Regions from separate parts of the Homo sapiens genome. Here region 2 is linked to region 1. The links come from fine-mapping of genetic effects on gene expression. A gene starts in region 1. The other region holds a variant in brackets. All regions are shown on one strand. Distances are from middle to middle.

The links.
Region 2: its variant is fine-mapped to the expression of BMP2K in tibial artery (GTEx, PIP 0.91).

What each region holds. Positions count from the first base shown.
Region 1 is chr4:78,774,886-78,777,797 of GRCh38, reverse strand. BMP2K (BMP2 inducible kinase) reads right to left here and starts at 1,448. Exons shown (of 16, transcript NM_198892.2): 1 at 1,077-1,448. The coding sequence starts at 1,254. It overlaps BMP2K-DT (BMP2K divergent transcript), which reads left to right and starts at 1,828. Exons shown (of 1, transcript NR_186689.1): 1 at 1,828-2,912. RefSeq lists silencers at 544-744, 1,106-1,775, 1,866-2,115 and enhancers at 319-949, 1,582-2,212.
Region 2 is chr4:78,907,242-78,910,153 of GRCh38, reverse strand. The region is part of intron 15 of BMP2K (BMP2 inducible kinase); the gene reads right to left. It also overlaps a transcript of PAQR3 not described here. Among named protein-coding and RNA genes, the nearest start is that of PAQR3, 31 kb to the left of the region's middle. The variant C/G (reference allele first, on the strand shown) is at 1,506.

The DNA.
Region 1 (2,912 bases):
TGTTGTGTATAGCATTTCAAAAAATACAAGCGGAATCTCAGTCTACTGTTTTCAAACCACATCAACGTCTAACGCTCGGAGAACTGAATCCACTCTTCGATTTTTTTTATCTTAACCATAGAACTTAAAAGGGCCATTTATCAACAAAAAGTATTTCTTTTAAAGTGTTTATTTTGTAGTATCATTTTGCAACTAAAAACTCAAAGGCCAATGAAGCATGCAGCACACAGGGCAAGTATTTTCTACAAGGCAATTATGCCAGAAATACAAAACTAAATTCTAAGTTCTTCTTTTAAAATGGAGTAAACTTTTTTTGTAAGTAGACTTCTACCTGCCGTCATAACCTGTTCCAGATCATGAAGGACCGACCACAAAACCTCGTTAAGTGAAAGTTAACCTGCTTTTATATCACCTTTTAAACTACTATCAAAGAGACATACTGGGAGGGCATGAATAGCACCTTGTCCAACAGAGAAGATTCTAAATAACAAAGATAAATGGGCTCCAAGTTTACCTGCTCCTCAGTGCAACCTACTAACTGAATTTAGAGCAAAGGATCACCTCCAACACGCACACATGCACACAAATACATTGTTTTTCAACAGATGACTGAGCTGCAGCAAAGCCCAGCTTGACACCAGGGGCTGCAGGGTCCTATGCCCTGCAGCGCGGGTGGAGGCTTAGATGAAAAGGCCAACGCATGACACCCGTCTGAGCCACAGCTGGCAGAACGGAGCTTCAACCCTGTTCGATCTGACCCTCTAATGAGTCACTGGCCCAATCGTAACACCAACCCACTTCCTAGCCCGTCTACTACCTATTTTCTCGCGTCAAAAAGCACAGAAAATGATTTAAACTAGGCATGAGAGAACTGTGCACCGGCCGGGGCAGCCAGCGGCAAGAAAAGCCAGCTTAAGAGAGAAAGCCCGAGCCACTCTTTAGGAGCCCCCGCTGGCCCGGCAGCAGAGGAAGAATGGGGTATAAGAGTCAGTCCGGAGGGCGAGGACCCGGAGAAGCCGCCGCCACACCCCAACCCTCCCTCACCTGCCTGTCCGAGCCTCCCCGGGCGCCCGTACCTTCGGCCAGCGACTCTTCCAGGGTGACCTGGTGGCGGCCGACCGCGAACACCCGGACCCCCACGGACGAGCCGCCGGAGCCGCAGCCGGCCCCGGCCCCGGCCCCGCCAGCCCCGCCACCCGCCGCTCCGCCGCCGCTGCCGCCCTCCGACTTGGGCATCCGAGAGAACTTCTTCATGGTCCCGCCGGCGAGCTGGAGGGCGCAGGGAGCGTGCAAGGGCAAGTCCCCGGCCCGGCGCGCAGCCGGGCGTCCGCGAGGGGTCGCCGCCCCTGGCCCGTCCGAGCGTGCTGCGGCCCGCCAAGCCTCACATTCCGCGCTCCCCAAGCGCACAGCCTGGGCCCCGCCGCCCGCTCCGCGGCTCCGCTGCAGCTGCCCGGCTCCCGCAGAGGGCGGTGGGGAGGGCGGGGACGGGGCGGGGCGCGAGGGGGCGGGTCCGAATCCAGGGGCGACGCCGCCGCCTCCGCCAGTGCCCCGGGCGTCCCGCCGCCTCACTAAGCGCCTGGAGCGCGAGCCGGGGTAGAGGAAGAGAGCGAAAGAGGCTGGGCGGCCGGCCCCTCCAGGGAGTGGGCTAGACGTCTCAGGCCACAAACCCGCAGGACCGCAGCCCGTCGCGCCGCCGCCGCCCCGGCCGAACCCGCGCCGCCCGCCACTCGTGGCCGTTGGCGGGGGGGGGGGGGGGGCGCTGCTGCCAACCGCTCACTGAGGCCGGGCGACCCGCGCAGGCGCGCTGCCCGCGCCGCCGGAAGTGACGGTTCCGGCTCTTGTCACGTGGAGGGGGACCAAGGGAGGTGATTGTGGGGGTTGGGGACTAGGGCAAAGTCGGGGGTCCCGGGTCCGGGGTTGCGCCGGGAGGGTACTGGCCAGGCCCGACTTCAAGCAGGGAGGTGGCCCGGGACTGGCTCCCGCGCTGGTCACGCACCGGGGTCCGTCATCTCGACCGGGAGTCGCTGTGCCACTCTAGGGGCTTAAAAATGCCGCCAACAACTTTACCCCTGCTGAGGAACTTCTCGCTTCGTTTCTTAGCCAGTTTTCCAGGCCTTCTCCCTTGAGAGTCTCCTTCCGCTCGCCCACCCTGAGCGTAGGAGGTGGGAGCAGGACGGAACTGGAGTGGATTCCAGTAACTGGACTTCTAAACCGGCTCGGTGTCGTCGCGCTCTGTAGCGGACGCTTGTGCTGGGAAGCGTTTTGCAGTTTATAAATTACTTAGGAGTACTTTAAACATCTCACGCCTGCTGTACCACAGCCATGTGGGGGTATTCAGAACAGGTATTAAGGTCGTTTTGCAGACCATTCATCACTCTTGGCTAAAAGAACTTAACGGAGTCGCCCAAGGTCACACAGCTGGCTCGTGGTAATTGGGGACCATTCTTTGATTCATAATTTTGTGCTTTTGGCCACCCTGAAAAAGTAAGGTCAGATCGTTGAAAAACGGGCAGATTTAAGGCTGTTTGGAAGCAAAAGCGACCACTGCGTTCCCCTCAAATCAAAGAGATTTGCACCCCCTACCAAAAAAAAAAAAAAAAAAAAAAGCCCTGTTGTATCAATTTCATAAACTGCAGGAGTCTCCCGACTGCAGGGTGAAGCAACAAAATAAATATGGGTGTAAAACATTCAGGAGTGGTAGGGAATGGCAAACTGTAGAGCCTGTGTAAAGAGAGCAGCCAATTCTCAGCTCCAGCCTACTTTTCCACAAAAGAAGATAGGCACACACACTGTGCCCAGAGGTTCCAGTTTCTTAAGAGAACCAAAAACCTGGAACTGTTTTCTAATGTGGCATTTCCCTAATTTTTAAAATATAGATCAAATAAATTGTATCTGCAGGACTCCAGTATGCA
Region 2 (2,912 bases), 130 kb before region 1:
GTTTCACTATTTTTTTAAATCAGCATTGTATTTTTTATAAACCACTATCTTTTGAATTGACTTAGCATGAATGGCCTCACCAAAGCTAAGGACCAGATACTAAATGGAGACTGTACCAAAAACATCTGCCTTCTCTAGATGATATGACTTCCTTTAATTATAATATCTATACATTACATTAAAAAAGCGAGATTCCTTTAAAAACAAATCTAAACCATCTGGAGATGTTTTTAGCTCAGAATCCATTCAGTCACTTCATTTTCTGAGTTCATTCAACGAAAGAAATATAGGGCACTTTGCTATACACTGATTATACATTGGTGAGTAAAAGAAACATGGTTTCTGCTTTCAGGGGTTTACAGTCAGAGGTTGTAAGTAAACATAAATTGTGACTAGTGCTCTGAAATAAAGGACAGCAGGGAAATGGGCGCATAAACCTACTTTGGACAGTGGTGAAGACCTCCCTAAGGAGACGACAGTTAGGATTGAACAATGAGAAGGAGCCCAGCCATGCAAAGGATAAGCTGGAAGCAGCTTCCAATAAAAGCAATGGCATATATAAAGACATATTTAAGGGGCTGAAAATAGGCTATTGTGGCTGGAATATAGTGAGCAAGGGAGGATCAGGTACAACATGAGGTAAGGAAGACTGGAAAAGGCCAGACTGTGAAGGTCCTCTAAGGCCATGATAAGCAGCGTATATTTCATTATACATCTAATTCAAAATTCCATGTATAATGGAAAGCTATTATTAAAATAGGTGTCATGATTAGGTTTACATAAAAAAAAATGACTGCTCTATAGAAAAACACTAAGGGGGCTGGGTGCGGTGGCTCACCCCTGTAATCCCAGCACTTTGGGAGGCCAAGGCGGGTGGATCACGAGGTCAGGAGTTTGAGACCAGCCTGGCCAACATGGTGAAACCCCATCTCTACTAAAAATAGAAAAATTAGCCAGGCATGTTGGCAGGTGCCAGCTGAGCCAGGAGAATCGCTTGAAACTGGAAGACAGAGGTTGCAGTGAGCCAAGATCGCACCACTGCACTCCAGTCTGGGCCAAAGAGCGAACTGTCTCAAAAAAAAAAAAAAAAAAAAAAAAGACTAAGGGAAGGTAAGAAGGGGAGTTCAGGCAAAAGGAAATTATAGTAATGCAAGTTAGAGATTTTGGTGGCCTAGATGACATGACAGTGGTGGCAGGGTGGGTCAAAGTAGAAAAAATAGAGATTGAAAACTCTTGGTGGATGGCAGCACCATTAACAGAAAGAAAAGAATGAGTGGCGTGATAGAAACCCATTTACCCTGATGTGATTATTATGCACTGTATACCTGTATCAACATATCTCATGTACCCCATAAATGTATATACCTACTATGTACCCACACACAAATTTTAATGAGCATAATTTTTTAAAAAATGAGTAAGTTGGAAAGTGAAGAGGAGTACTAAAAATTTTGTTTGGAGACATTAAGCTTGACATATGTGTGAGACAACATTTAAGTGTACAG[C/G]AGTTAGGTATCTGTGATTTGAAACCAATGGTTAGTTTTTGGCTGAAGAAAATAGATTTGGGAGTTATCACCATGCAGTTGGTATGCAGAGAGAGCCACAAGACTAAAGGGCATACCTCGGAAGAAAACATAGAAGAAAAGAAGATCCAAAACTGAGCCCTCAGTATAAAACATTCAGAAGTCAGCAGAGGAAGATGAACATACAAAACAAACTACAAAGTAACAGCCAGAGAGGAGGAAGAAAACAGCTGAGTGCAATGTCACAGAAATGGAGAGAGAAGAATGTTTGAGGGAGGTAACAGACAACTGAGCTGGATGGTGCAAAGAGGTCCAGTAAACTAAGGACATAAAATGGCCACTGGATCTGGTCATCTTGTATAGTTTGTTGGCAATGTTGACATGAGTAGTGGTGCTAAAGAATGTGTGGGAGACAAGTATGTGAAGAATACCACCAGGTTATACTTAATTGCAAATATAATCTTCTGTCAGTTCCTTAAAACCAGCCAAGAGCTACATGCTGTATTTGTTATCCTTCCAGATTAAAAGCAAATCAAATGCAGATTCTCAAGTTTGACTTCTTCCCTACACAGCGTATTTATGATATTAAAAACAAAGTTAATTTTAGTGAATTTATTTTTATGAATTTTTATTCAAAAGCAAAATATGGGAAGAAGGGAAAAATGAAAATAAAATATGTACGGTTCCAGAAGATTTCCCATCATCCCTGACTGTGAAACGTTTAACGTATTACTCCTCGAGCTGCATACCCACCCACAGCCACAACATTCACACCTCACGCCTGCTCACGGACACCTCCAAGTAACATTCCAATGTTGCCCAAAGTGTATTCTGCAGAGGCTATTTCCCTAACAAGAACCAAGACAAACAGTTCTGTGGTCTCAAGCAAACAAGTCTATGAAATGGTGCACTCTGCATTCTGCCTCCACTCCTACTCACCTGGAGTATGCTCATTAAAGGTGCTAATGAGTCCTACACAAAAGAATCTAATTTTATGAACCCTAGGATTTCCCAAATTGTCTTCACTACCCTTTTATTTACATGTAATGCCTGTTAACCTTTAAAACCAACTATGCAAAAGTACTTTGGGGAAATGCTGCTATACAACTTATCTTGAAATTTTCCATTTCTAGTTGTGTTCCTGAAGGTCTTCTGGAACATTTAACGTAGGACAGATAATTCATCTTGGAGAGTGTCACTTGGAAGTGAATTTAAATTCGCCTTCTTTTTAAAATTATTACATTGTACTCCCTAGTCTTCTTAAAATTTACTGTTTTCATTATTCAACTGGCTACCATTACTTTTCAGAAGACATCTGTCACTTTATACTTCTCATTCTGTTGGCCCTTTGTCCATTTATCAAAGTTGTATTAATAGAAATACACATTT